Regions from separate parts of the Homo sapiens genome. Here region 1 is reported to be linked to region 2. Evidence: microRNA targets listed by miRTarBase, many of them from high-throughput screens and not tested one by one. Region 2 holds a microRNA gene; the other region holds the end of a gene's coding sequence.

Region 1 (7,000 bases), not on the chromosome of region 2:
TACAAGAATTAGCCAGGTGTGGTGGCACATGCCTGTTATCTCAGCTACTCAGGAGGTTGAGGCACAAGAATAGGCTGAACCCAGGAGGCAGAGGTTGCAGTAAGCCAAGATCACACCACTGCACTCCAGACTGGGCAACAGAGCAAGACTGTCTCAAAAAAAAAAGAAAAAAACAAAAACAACAAAAAAAACCCACCACTTATATCTGAACCTTGGAGAAACAACTACTGGTTTTTTAGTGTAAGTATGTCCTATTAACAACTAAAAAATTCATTGCTTCTCCAAAATTCAAACTTAAATGCACATCCTATATAATATTTTTATTTGCTAAACCTAGGAACCCTAATTAGGGCCTCGTAACTCATTGCACAAAAGATTCATACTTTCTTCCTTGCATGTAAAATAGAGATTAACCGATATCTTTCCCCATCTTTTCCCTTGTTTCATATAAAGTGTATTATTGATAATTGTTAACGAAAAAAAGAAAAGATACACAATTTATAAATTTTGAGAGGAGACTTTATTTCTTATAAAGGGTTAGGCTGGGCCTGGTGGCTCACACCTATAATCCCAGCACTTTGGGAGGCCAAGGCAGGAGGATCACTTGAACCCAGGAGGCCTTAACCAGCCTGGACAACATAGTAAGAACCCATCTCTACAAAAAATTTTACAAATTAGCCAGGTGTGGTGGCATGCACCTGTAGTCTTAGCCACCCCGGAGGCTGAGGCAGGAGGATCACTTTTGCCCAGGAGTTTGAGGTTGTAGTGAGCTATGATCGCACCACTGCACTCCAGCCTCAGAAAGGGAGTGAGACCTGCTGGGAAGCATGTCTCCAGCCAAGACCAGAGACAGGCACTTCAAAGAAGGAGGGGTTAGGGTAGGAGCTTCATGCTCAATGGATTGACTAAACATACACATTCAACAGGTTACATGAGGAGCTATGAATATTCATGAAAGTGGTTCTGACACATGCATATTGAACAAACATGCATGCAACATACAACCCATGGTCACTTTGGGGTGGAGACTTAACATTTAAATGTATTATAATTAGGCCCTATATGGCAAAAGGTCTTTTCAGGACACAAAGACATGCAAGTGCAGGAGCTCTGTAAGCCAGCCAGAACCAGTCCATGATGGGTAGTCACCTTGTCAGGAAAAAGTTACTGAAATCAGTCACTTGTCCAACCAAAGCTGTAGTTATGGCTGGTGGAACAGTGGTTGGAGGTCAGTTAGTCAGCATCTGATGAAGCTGAAAATGTTTTTAATATTGCTTATCTCAAAGCCAGTGCTTGGACCGGGTGCGGTGGCTCACGCCTGTAATCCCAACACTTTGGGAGGCTGAGGCGGGCAGATCACCTGAGGTCAGGAGTTCAAGACCAGCCTGGCCAATATGGTGAAACCCCATCTCTACTAAAAATACAAAAATTAGCCGGGTGTGGTGGCGGACACCTGTAATCCCAGTTACTCAGGAGGCTGAGGCAGGAGAATCACTTGAACCCAGGAGGCAGAGGTTGAAGTGAGCCAAGATCACGCCACTGCACTCCAGCCTGGGTGACAGAGTAAGACTCCGTCTCAAAACAAACAAAATAAAAAGTGGTTTTTGTTTTGTTTTGTTTTTAAGCTTTTTAGCTGCTACAGGGAAAAAAAAACCAAAAACAAAAAACCTTGTGCAGTTAGAACATAGTTTATTCATAAGTTGGGGGCAGGGGAGGCGGGGCATGAAGGTGGGCTCTACATGACTTAACCCTTGCTTGGCATGGCCTTAGGTCCTGTTTACAATTTGGTATCTTATTGCCACAGTGTCTGTTCTGTCCATCTCATGATCCCTATTTTGTTCATTCATGCTCGGCAGCTGTGTCTAAACCATAAAGGGATGGGGTATAACAAGTTGCATCTGACCTCCCAACCCATCAGGGCCAGGAATTGTTTTAAGTTTTTTCTGAGATTCCCTCGGCCACGAGGTGGCATCTGTTCAGTCGGTGGGGTTTTAGGATTTTTAGTTTACATAACTGATTTGATAATCCAGGGCATTTGTTACAGCGTATCCAGGTGAGATTATGACTCAACTATTTAGCACCTCCATCTCAACATGTACTTCCCCAACGGTCATGGCAGAGGAAGAGAGGGCTGGAAAATTGAGCACTGGCAATGACATATTTTGCCCCAAAACTGACCCCTTCACATTTCTTTTTTCTTTTTTGAGACGGAGTCCTGCTCTGTCATCCAGGCTGGAGTGTAGTGGCCCAATCTCAGTTCACTGCAACCTCCACCTCCCGGGTTCAAGCGATTCTCCTGCCTCAGCCTCCTGAGTAGCTGGGATTATGAGCACGCCACCACACCCGGCTAATTTTTGGATTTTTAGTAGAGACGGGTTTCACCATGTTGGCCAGGCTGGTCTCAAATTCTTCACCTCAGGTAATCAACCCACCTCGGCCTCCCAAAATGCTGGGATTACAGGTGTGAGCCACCGCCCCCGGCCCTTGACTCCCTTCACATTTCATTAGCCAGAGCTGGGCTTGTGGCCAGACCTGCCTTGAAGGAGGCAAGGAAGGGTATGTGAACATGAGCAACGTCCACACAGGTGGACAAGGTGACCCGTGTGACTTTGGTTCCCTCTCTTTAGGAAGAATTTTTGGTTGTACTTGGGACAGTTACAGGCATGCTGCTATTGCCATGATCTTCGGGAAGCTGAAGTGATGAGCAGCAGTGTGTGATTCTGAGGACACAGAGGGCTGGGGTCTAGGAGCTATCTCAGGTGGGCTCAGTCAGTGCCATCCTCCCTTTTGGTGCCTCCCTAGAAGTGCTGAGAAGATGCAAAACCAAAAGCTTTTACTCCAACATTGCTTAGCCAAGCTAAGCACATGCATTCCCTATGATTCAGCAATTCTGCTCCTAGCATGTATCCCAGAGAATTGTCCCATGGGTCCATAGGGGCATATAAGAATGGCCATTGCAGCAAAGTTCTGGTTGGGGTAGGGGGAGCTGAAAGTCATCTGGTGTCCACAACTGGAGGAATGGATGGATAAAATGGGATGGATGCACAAGTGGGCAGACAGATGGGTGAAAGGATGGTCAGTCCTTACATGGACCAGTTTCCTTATTCTTAGGCTAAGGATTAGCATCTCCAGGCAAAAAGAAAACGTTTCTGGATTCCCTTGCCACTGGAGTTCCGTGGAAGAGAGAAATGGAGTCCACTAATGAGGTGTCCTTTGAAGGATATGGATGGAGGACACAGGGCCAAGGAAGTTTGCTCTGCGGGCCCAGCCTTGGAGATGTTCAGTCCTTCTGCAGCAGCACCACGCTTCTGGCTTTGTGGGTGTCAGGAGGCAGGAGTGGCAGTCCCACCCCATGTCCCAGGGCCCAAGCCCAGCTTCCTGGGTGCTTACAGGGGATGGCAGGCAGGACAGTACGTTCTGATCCCAGCTCCAGTGGGAGCTTCCTGGAGGCGACTTCTCCAGCCTTCCCATGTACTTTAAGTACCCTGATTCCCTTAAATCCCCTTCTGCCAAAAACAGCTGGAGAAGTTTCTGTTTCCTGAAACTGACCCCTTCCTGATTTGGAAATGACTTGCCGAGGTGACAAAGCAAGTTATTGCCACATCTCAAGTTTGAGACAGGCCTCCTGACTCCACCTATTAACAGTACCACTGTCCCAGGCCCTTTCTTTTTTTTCTTTTTTTGAGACAGAGCCTTGCTCTGTCGCCCAGGCTGGAGTGCAGTGGCGTGATCTCGGCTCACTGCAACTTCTGCCTCCCAGGTTCAAGTAATTCTCCTGCCTCAGCCTCCCAAGTAGCTGGGATTACAGGCGCCCGCCACCACGCCCGGCTAATTTTTGTATTTTTATTAGACACAGGGTTTCGCCATGCTGGCCAGGCTGATCTCAAACACCTGGCCTCAGGTGATCCACCCGCCGCAGCCTCTCAAAGTGCTGGGATTACAGGCATGAGCCACCGCACCCAGCCCAGGCCCGTCTTTCCTCTCCTAGTCTGCCCCAATCGGAAGGATCAGGAGGCGTAAAGCTGGCCCATGGGGAACCTGTGGCTGGGAGCCCATGAGGCAGGGGCAGCAGAAGAGGGCAGAGACGGTTGGGACCTCTGTGGCCCTGGCTGAGGTCTGCTCTGATGGCATGGTAATGGAAACCTGCTACCAGATGACAAAACACTATTACCAAACAGCTGGGTGACCTTAGGAAAATCACTCAACCGCTCCTGCCTACGGATTTCCTCATCTGCGGGGCCCTGCAGAGCTGTTGCAAGGATGAAATGAGGCAACGTACATGTGCCTGGCAGCACAGCTGACCCCACACAGCTCAATCCTCAGTGTTTGCATGTTTGGGAAAAAAAAACAACAACTAGAGGAACTAGTTCTTCTTACCTGGGAAGATTCCTAAGCACAAATTAGGTTTCTTAGGGGCTGAGATTAGAAAAAACTTGGTCTCAGACCCTAGACCTTATTAGCAGGCCCTTCCTAGAGCTGGCTCTAATCGGCACAGCTTGGGAAGCTCTCCACCTGGCCACTGCTGTCTTTCTGTTTCTGGCTTAGGCCCACTGGCCTGCCTGGCGTGAGCTCCCTGGGGCAGGGAGCTTGCAAACCTTGGGAGTTGAGAAGCGCTGGCTCGGCCAGGTGTGGGGGCTCACACCAGTAATCCCAACACTTTGGTGAGGCTGAGGCAGAAGAGTCATTTAAGCCCAGGAGTTCGAGACCAGCCTAGGAAACAGGGAGATCCTGTCTGCAAAAAATACAGTGGTGACTCACACCTGTAGTCCCAGCTACTCGGAGGCAGGCTGAGATGGGAGGATCACCTGAGCCTGAGAGGCAGAGTCTGCAATGATCCCTAATCACACCACTGCACTCCAGAGCGCCAGAGTGAGATCCTGTCTTTAACCCCTCCCCGAAAAAAAAAGAAAGAAAAGTACTGTCCAACAGGTCAGGTCCACACTCTAGCTTCAGCCTTCTTCCTAAATCACTGAGTGGCCTTGGGCAAGGCCAGACCCTCTCTGGGAAGCAGAAAGGAGATTTTTCCCCTGCCTCCTGGGCAGAGATTCTGGAGAGCACTAGTGTGTCTGGGTGAGAAGGAACTCTGTAGCTCTACAGTGCCGGGTTCTGTCTGGAAGCCTTCTTGGGGCCTATGACCCTGCTATGGTTTGAATGTTTGTCCCCTCCCACGCTCACGTTGAAATGCGATTGCCACTGTAACAGTATAAGATTAGACCCTAAGAGGTGGTCAGGCCACGAGGGCTCTGCCCTCCTGCGTGGACTCAGGCCGTTATCTTGGGAGTGGGTTCGCTCTCTCCCCTCACTCCTGTCACTCTGTCCTCTGTCATGGGAAGATGCAGAAGGGTCCTCACTGGGCTCTGGGCCCTCCACTATGGACTTCCCAGCCTCCAGAGCTCTGAGCCAATACATTTCTGTTTATTATAACTTACCCCGTCTCAGGGATCTTGCTAGAGCAGCAAAAACAGACTCAGACAGACCCTCACCCCCAGGAGCCTGCTCCCAACCGGGGCCCAAAAGAAAACAAGCCAGCGAGGGCACTGCGGAATGCAGGGTTTTGGCGACAGAGCTACAGGAGTGTGCCTTGGCCCCCACAAGGGCCACAGTCCTGCCCCCACCTGGTCTCCCGGGGCTCAGACAGCAGCCGCCAGCCCACGGAGGTAGTCCCCCGCCAGGGGCAGCACGGCCCAGTCATCGGTCCGCAGGGCCACAGGCACTCCATCTGCCAGGGCCGCCTCCAGCCGCAGCAGCAGCTTTGAGTCCGGGGGCAGGTGGATTGCTACACAGTAGCTGGTAGGAGGCTGGGCCACCACCACAAAAGGCTCCAGGTGGCGGGACACCAAGCCCTCCAGGCCCTGTGGCCCAAGTGGACACCACACACGACTCTCAGCACCCTCTGGCAGGCAGGAATCCCAGAGCTCCTCAAAGAAGCCCAGCCCGGCCCCCTCTGGAGGCTGCGGGAAAGGCAGAAAGAGGTCGGCAAAGTTCACGAACAGGGGTGGCAAGTGGGCATGGCACGTGAGACCAGTGGATGTGGTGTAAAGGGCATGGACATCCAGCCGTGCGGGGGCCGGGCATCGGGGCTGCAGAGGCAGGAGCAGAGGGCGGGCAGGGCGGCCAGGACACAGGCAGGGCACATGGACAGCCTCCAGGGGTGCATACAGCTGTCCTTCCACACGGAAGCGCAGCTCCAGAGAGTAGATGGGCTCCAGCGCCTCCGGCTGGAGCTTCAACACTGGGAGTGGGCCCTTGACCCGATGGGACCCCAGGCTCAGCCGTACCAGGGCCGGTGCCTCCTGCACCATCAGTGCTGCCACAAAGCCCTGGTTCTCGGCCACCAGTGAAGAGGCCAGTGCAGGTGCGGCAAGCGAGGGGCCCAGGGCCACCCCCAACTTGGGTGCTGCCAGGTGTGCCAGCAGGATGTAGTAGAGGCGGGCGTGGTCACGCCCATCAGGGTCCTCCAGCTGCCTGGCCAGCACCTGCAGCAAGTCGACCAGGCCGCCCCTCACCCCTGCCCGCAGCAGCGCCCGGCAGACCCGCAGCAGGCCCTGCTGTAGGTCCCAGTTCGTGCAGTGGGCAGCCGCGGCCTGTAGAAAGTTGAGGGTAGCACTCTGGGCATCTCCATCTGCCACCTTTGCCAGCATTTGCAGGTGCCAGCAAAGAGCTTCATCCCTGCCCGGCCTGGACACCACCACCTGCCGCAACACCACCTTCAGGGGCTCCCTCAGCTCAGAGTCCACCTGATCCAAGAGGTCCACAAAGTGGGGAGCCAGCATGGGCCGGGCTTGGTACAGCTGGGCCAGTCCGTGGATCAAGGGGGTCAGCACCGTAGGTTGCCCAGCCAGGCAGCAGGCCACCAGATACGAGGCCTGGAAGCAGAGAGTGGCCAAGGCCCGGGGGCCCCCATCCAGGGCTGCCCGCTGCCGCAAGCCAGCCAGCAGCTCTTCCAGGTAGTGCCGTGGGCTTGGAAGCTGGCCTTTCTCCTCTTCTTCCTCCTCGGCAC
Region 2 (7,265 bases):
AAAGGAGGGCTCTTTGAAGTGATTAGGCATGTAATTCATGGATCCCCTCAGCCACTTCAACAGAGGCCAAAAATGGAGATGAAATTATCCAAGAAAGATCTGTAGAGGAGCCTGTTTTTCTAATGGAGTGAATCCTGGAGATGTGCATAGTAAAATCACAATGTTCTTGAGAATCCTACAACGGTGGTAACACCATCAGCTTGGACTGATACAGGCAGAAAAGGGATGAAATGCACGAAGGCTGAATGGACACTCAAAATTCTACAGGTAGGAGATGGATGACAAGAATACCTGGTTGAAAATATGTGCAACCCTTCATGAAAATGAAGAAATAATTCTGAACTAGGCCCAGAGAGCAGACTCAAGCCACAGAGGATTATTCACAGGCCTTGAAATCTAATGGAATTTTCCCATGTAGATTTCTACATTTCTTGAGACTGGCAACTCCTTTTTCCTTCCACTTTATCCCTTTTTATGTAGGAATGTCTGTAACTGTTATCCTATGCCTGTCCCTCCATTGCATTTTGGGAACATATAATTTGTTTTGTAGTTTCACAGCTACACAGATGGAGAGGAACTCTGCTCAAGGACAGATTATAAAGAGATCCTCAGCCATATCTAATTTAAATAATTTGGACAATGAGATTTGGGACTTTTAAGCTGATGAAATTTAGATGATATTTTGAACTTGAGTTGATGCTATGATTGGTTGAGACTTTTGGAGACCTGAGAATGTGGTGTAATGTGTTTTGCATAAAGGAAGGATCTGAATCTTTGGGGAGCCAGAGGGCAAACTATGGCAGACTGAATAATGGTCCTCAAAGCAACTCCATCCAAATCCCTGGAAACTGTAAATATGTTACCTTAAATGGCAATAGAAGCCTTTTTGGATGTGATTGGGTTAAGGATCTTGAGATGGGAGGATTTTTCTGGAGTATTTGGGTGGACCGAACATAATCACAAGGGTCCTTATTGGAAGGAAGTAGGAAAGACAATTTCAGAGATGGGATGCAAGGACAAAAGCAAAGGTCAGAGTGCAAGAGAAATTTGAAGATGCTACATTGCTGGATTTGAATATAGAGAAAGGGGTCAAAGAAGTGATGTGGTTTCTAGAAGATGGGAAAAGCAAGAAAATGGATTTTCTTCTAGAGCTTCCAGAAGGAATGCAAGCCAACCAATACCTTGACTAGGATATTTGACCTCTAGAATAATAAATTTGTGCTGCTTCAAGCCACTAAGTAGATAGGAATTTGTTATAGCAGCCACAGGACAATACAAATGCCTCTATTATAATTTGGTAAAAAAAAAAAAAAAATCACATCCCAGGAATCTCAGAGTTAAAATAGCAAAGAGCATGCTTAACAAGACACTAAAAAATAACTTATAACACTTAAAAATCCTGATGATATTTTTCTGTTGACCGTTATCTTGTGGAAATGTGACAACTGTGACAACACAAAAATGGAACATCTCATCACTCCAACAGGATGAATTCTGCTTTGTAAACTGAAAGAAAAGTAATTCAATAAATATACATTGCTGTTGTATAGTCAACACAGTTTTTCCTAATGGTGCATTAGCATCTGAAAGTGCAGGAGGAATAGTTTATTTAGACTTTGAACCCATTACCGTAAATGAGGGCCCCCTTCACCAAGGACCCCTCTTCAATTATCTCATCAACTTAATTTCAAAAATCATACAAATAGTTTTTAAAAGCCACTTCAAATGTTATAGGGCAATGAGATTGCCCATAGTTCAGGCAGTAATATATATTCAGTAATCGGAATCATGGCATGATTTATTCTCTTTTAAGGATGTCTAAGTTTTTCCAAGAGTCAGGATATAATCACAATAGAAACACATATATAACAAAGTGGTTTCAAAGCATCCCTTACCTGTGTAACAAGTGGCTCCAACAGCCTTTCCACTGTTAGCGTCCGGATTTCCAAACTTTTGGGGTCCCATTTCAGAATGATAGGTGAAGTTGCCGAAGTCATGCTCCCTATGGGAACACATGTAATCAGTTAGAAATAATCATCTTTGAAATAAATTGTAACTTTGGTGATTCAAAATGGGTAAATCACTGAAACTTAGAACATACTGGAAGATAGCCTCTCTGGTCCAACCTGGTCAAATTAGAGATGGAAAAACCAGACCAGTACACTGTGAGGTGGCAATGTTGGAATCAGATTAAAAACTGAGGCCTCCTCAGCATACTGGTGTACCTTAGGCCTGCTTTTGGGACCCAATAGCCACTGAAATATTTCATTTACTCAACAATGAGTATGCATACCTATCTGCTATATGCTGCGAAAGGTTTCAGTCTTGCTTTCAAGTAGCTTAATGTTTAAAGTTAGAGATAGCCAAATATGGGAACAATTAGGTCTCAGTGTGACACATGTTGTGATTAAGAAACACAGAGAGTTCTAGATCCCTGAGGAATCGCCACACTGACTTCCACAATGGTTGAACTAGTTTACAGTCCCACCAACAGTGTAAAAGTGTTCCTATTTCTCCACATCCTCTCCAGCACCTGTTGTTTCCTGACTTTTTAACATGGAATACTATGCAGCCATAAAAAATGATGAGTTCATGTCCTGTGTAGGGACATGGATGAAATTGGAAATCATCATTCTCAGTAAACTATTGCAAGAACAAAAAACCACACACCGCATATTCTCACTCATAGGTGGGAATTGAACAATGAGATCATATGGACACAGGAAGGGGAACATCACACTCTGGGGACTGTTGTGGGGTGGGGGGAGGGGGGAGGGATAGCATTGGGAGATACACCTAATGCTAGATGACGAGTTAGTGGGTGCAGCACACCAGCGTGGCACATGTATATGTATGTAACTAACCTGCACAATGTGCACATGTACCCTAAAACTTGAAGTATAATAAAAATAAATACATTTAAAAAAAAAAAAAGAAACACAGAGAGGACTATGGGAGAGGTGAGGAAGGGGCATCAATGTCAGTCTGGAGAGAACAACAAAGAATAGCAGGAAGCAAAGTAAATCCACCAATGATTACTAGATGTAGGAACCCCTTTATAACAAAAGGCTACTTTTTTCTTCACATCATAACTGACCCCTGAGAATATCATACTCCTTGGGACAAGAGTTTCAGTCTCTTAAATATGAAAGACATCTTCAAACTAAGTGCCAATGTTCTGAAAAATTATCTGCTACTATTTACATGCTCTCTGATTACTCACTACATTTACATTCTTGTCCCATAAAATCAGTGACTGATAAGGTTATTTATTTCACTCTAAAGCAATCCTCTCTTACCTAAGAACCACTGACATGCAGGTAGCAGTCTCCACACAACAAGCAAAAAATTACAGTTCTAGCCCCTCCCCCCCCCCCCCCGAAAAAGTATACATTCTATCAGGGGTTTGTTTCTTTCATCAAGAAATTGCTAAATACATTCTGACATCTAACCACTGGACAAGCAACCTTAGATTGTACAAACCGAATCTGAATGATTTGCCTTAATACCAACATAAATCAAAATGTCCATGGCTGTTCTTTTATTTTGAATCAATGTCCCCATTCAATTCCAACCTTATAAATCAATGTAGATGATTATTTCTACTAGAATTAACACGACAAAGAAGGCCTATCACAATAGGCACTAGTAGAAATGTGCCTCTTTACTGGCTCTCTTACAGCTAAAGCTTTTGCAAATAGACCCAACCAATTTGCTTCAGAAAAAAAGTAGAGGCAAAGACACAGTGTGCTGGTATTTTAACTCTCTCCAAATGCCATGTTTTAAATAAACTAAGCATAGCAATCCAACCATACAGACCGATTTAGATTTGGGTTTCTTCATCACAACAATAGTTGGCACCGACATGCTGCCTGTCCTCCAAAAACCTAAAAACACTTTACACATTTTCCATTCACACTACCAACTGCCATAGAGCAGCTCTGTCATATACAGAATTCTGCCGCTGGGCAACACACCTTCTCATGCCATAGAAGGATAAAGATGCCAGATGCTTCCTGCAGACACTGGGATACCTTCATCCCTACTGAAGCCAGACCTACCTAAGTGATCTTAGTCCAGTACTTATGATACAGCTGTTGCAAGTTTCTGGAGAAGTTCCCTGAGAACCTTTTTCAAACTCTAATGGAATCACAAGTGGCATAATAATGATGATGAACACGGAAGTTCTGTAGGAAAGCTGGATACTCAGTCATGGTCATTGTAACATGATAGTGACAGGTACTGGGTAAGACTGCATAGAGAATTTCCATTATAACATGGGCATGCTTGTAGACATACGCTGATAGATCAAGGAAGGCACATAAAATTATAGCTGTTCCATTATGTAACTTTTAAAACATGACACAAAAATGCTGGGGAAGTCACAACAGAGACATGAATCTAGCATGCATCAAGCAGAAGTGAAAGATACTCCTTAAACAAAGATCTCAAGCCAACTATGAGCCAAGAAGCAAGTGTTAGTTAGGGCCTTCAGTCCTGAAGGTCACAGAGCCCTTCTAACTCTAAAAATAAAAGAACAATAGTTCCCAGACAAATCACTCAAATTAATTTATTCCTTTGAGGATCAATCTTTTTAGTCATTTCTTGTGACAAAGGTAAAATTCAGTAGCAAAGAAAAGGTTACACGGTACTAATTTGTTGAAGTGGAAAAATAAGTCATAGAAATGTGAAATGCTGTTTTCCAGCCATGCTGTTTCTGATACAGTTGAGACTAAAACCAGGAATTCTGTCTCTACCCCATAATCTTTTCACCATTTAGTTTACTAACCACATTAGCAATGAACAAAAGGAGTGGTGGTGGGGACCGCAAAATCCCCACCTCTAAACCCATGATGTTGATATGTAAGATTCCCTTTGAGTTGCCTCTAAGGGGCATTTTAGCTTCATATCAGCCATTGAGCACAAGGTAGAAGAAGGTAAGAAGCTCCCCTGCCTGTGATACCTCAGCTGGTATCATCTTTACAGTTTGCTGTTTCTAGAAAAAGTATTCCCATCCTGCATGTCCTGCTACTTGTAAAACATTGGATTGCTTTCTGCTGTCTGTATTAGACCTTGTAGTAGGAACATTTTCCTTAAAAAATCCCTTGGCCAATTGGAATTGCATGAAAACAGAAAAAAAAGATTCTGTTCCAGGATAGTAATCATAACCATAGTCTTCTAGAATCACTCATTAATGATCTTTGCCTCCAGAGTTCTAGTATGAACAAATTAGGGCAGAGAAGGCAAAATGAGTCAAACATCCTCTAGAGCAAAAAGGGAGGCAATGGTAGTCAGAAAATATGAATTGATGATTTGGTATGTGGCCCCTCTGACAAGCACACACAATAAGGTGACTCCTAACTGAGAATGTCATCCCGCCTGTACATTCAATATTTATGAATTAGGAAGGACAGAGAAAATGCACAGGCATTTGAGGTAGATTGGAGGATTTTTCAGTAAATAGTCATTTCCTTCCCATCCTCACCTCCATGAGAAGAGAATATTTTCCTATTCCATTGCTATTGAGCTTTGGCTAGAGGAATGTTAAGAAATATGACGTGAGTAGACATTTGGAATGTGCTTACTTAATTGGGCTTCTCCTCTGTGCTACTGCCTTCTGCCATAAGAGTCACATATAACCTACTGGTCCAAAACGAAAGAAGGACACATGGAGCACACCTGAATCCGAGCTGGAGCTGGAGCCAAGCACAGCTAAGTTAAGCCTAGTCAGCCAACTCCCAACCAAACCATCAACACATGATCAAGAAGTAAATGCCTGCTGTTGTATGTTGCATGCCACTGAGATTTTGCCATTAACTATTAATCAGCAATAGCTAACACAATGGTATCAAATAGACTTTTGTTTAAATTGAAGCCCTGCCATTCAAGTATTTATCATATACTCTGGGCCAGGCATTGTTCTAGGTAGCAGGGCTACATCAGTGGACAAAACCAGCAAAAATATCTGCTGTCTCGGCAGAGATCACACTCTGGAGGGAAAGACTGAAAATAAACAAATAAGGAACGTATACTGAAAAAAAAAACTTGAAGCCTTGCAATTTATTAGCTCTGTGATACTGTTCAATTGCCTGCCCTTTCTGAGTCCCAGTTTCCTCAAATGAAAAATCAGGATAATAAGGATTTTATAGGCTTATTGTGAGGATTAAATAACTTAATGGATAGAAAGCATGCTAACATTCCTGGAAATATTTGTTATTATTGTTATGTTGTCATTATTTTCCCAAATTTAAATTTCCTTTTTTGGCAATTCTTTATCTCTGAAGTAACAGGTAAACACTCATTAAAATAGAGATCCAGATTTACACTCCTCTATGTGGAACAACCAAATTGACACAAACGAGAAAACAAGAGAACAGATCAAGTGTGCAGTCTCACGAGCCCTTCATCTTTCTGAGGATAAAATGATATATAGTCTCAATCCCATCTGTGCAATTAATACCGTCTGTTTGCCCACAAAAGAAAATTTACATAAAGCAAATAAATTTCTTCTCACTGATTTGAATTCAAAGTAAAAATTTATATTTTACTTACCTTTGGTAGAGAGACTTAGAATACAGACTGGATACAGTCAAAGAGTGAAAAACAAGATTGTAAATAACAAAAGACAACAAGTTTGTCTTCTTCCATACAGCACAATGTTACAAGCCTATGAGAAAGCTCCTAGAATTTGAATTTCTGAGGAGAGTTTCTTCGTGAAAAGTTTTAGCTGGGCACAGTGGCTCATGCCTGTAATCTCAGCACTTTGGGAGGCCACAGTGAGTGGACTGCTTGAGCCCAGAAGTTTGAGACCAGCCTGGACAACATAGTGAGACCAATATCTACAAAAAATACAAAAATTAGGTGAGCATGGTGGCACAATATTGTAGTCCCAGCTACTGAGGAGGCTGAGGTGGGAGGATCACTTGAGCCCAGGGATGTCGAGGCTTCAGTGAGTCATGATTGTGCCACTGCACTCCAGCCTGAGCAACAGAATGAGATCCTTTCTCAAAAAAAAAAAAAAAAAAAAAAGACAGAAAGAAAAGTTTTAAATTGTGTTTCCATGTAAGGTAATAATACAGCCCACCTGGTAATACTTCAGATAATTTCATATTCTTTCTGTGGTGGTAAGAAAGAGGCACAGGCCAGGATGCTATCAGCTATTTGTCACTCATGATAGAAAATACAAAACCTGACAGAAAAGAAAAGTCAGAGTAAAATGGGCTCCTCTGTGAAGCAGCCAAGGGTTAAGGGGCTTGTTTCCTTGG

What was found. The annotated mature microRNA hsa-miR-4264 reads ACUCAGUCAUGGUCAUU and lies in region 2 at 4,205-4,221, shown strand. An mRNA with a match to its seed (bases 2 to 7 or 8) in the 3' UTR can be bound and repressed. Matches are read on the target gene's strand: a 7mer-m8 pairs with bases 2 to 8, a 7mer-A1 pairs with bases 2 to 7 and ends in A, and an 8mer does both.
Region 1: miRTarBase lists AP5B1 as a target of hsa-miR-4264. Seed matches in the 3' UTR shown: 7mer-m8 at 2,765-2,771 and 7mer-A1 at 2,252-2,258.

The regions. Positions count from the first base shown.
Region 1 is chr11:65,772,226-65,779,225 of GRCh38, forward strand. It overlaps AP5B1 (adaptor related protein complex 5 subunit beta 1), which reads right to left. Exons shown (of 2, transcript NM_138368.5): 2 at 1,673-7,000. The coding sequence ends at 5,631. Among named protein-coding and RNA genes, the nearest start is that of AP5B1, 5.2 kb to the right of the region's middle. RefSeq lists an enhancer at 5,120-6,024.
Region 2 is chr2:79,646,289-79,653,553 of GRCh38, reverse strand. MIR4264 (microRNA 4264) reads left to right here and starts at 4,195; the gene lies at 4,195-4,260. It overlaps CTNNA2 (catenin alpha 2), which reads right to left. Exons shown (of 19, transcript NM_001282597.3): 2 at 1,896-2,002. The coding sequence starts at 1,997.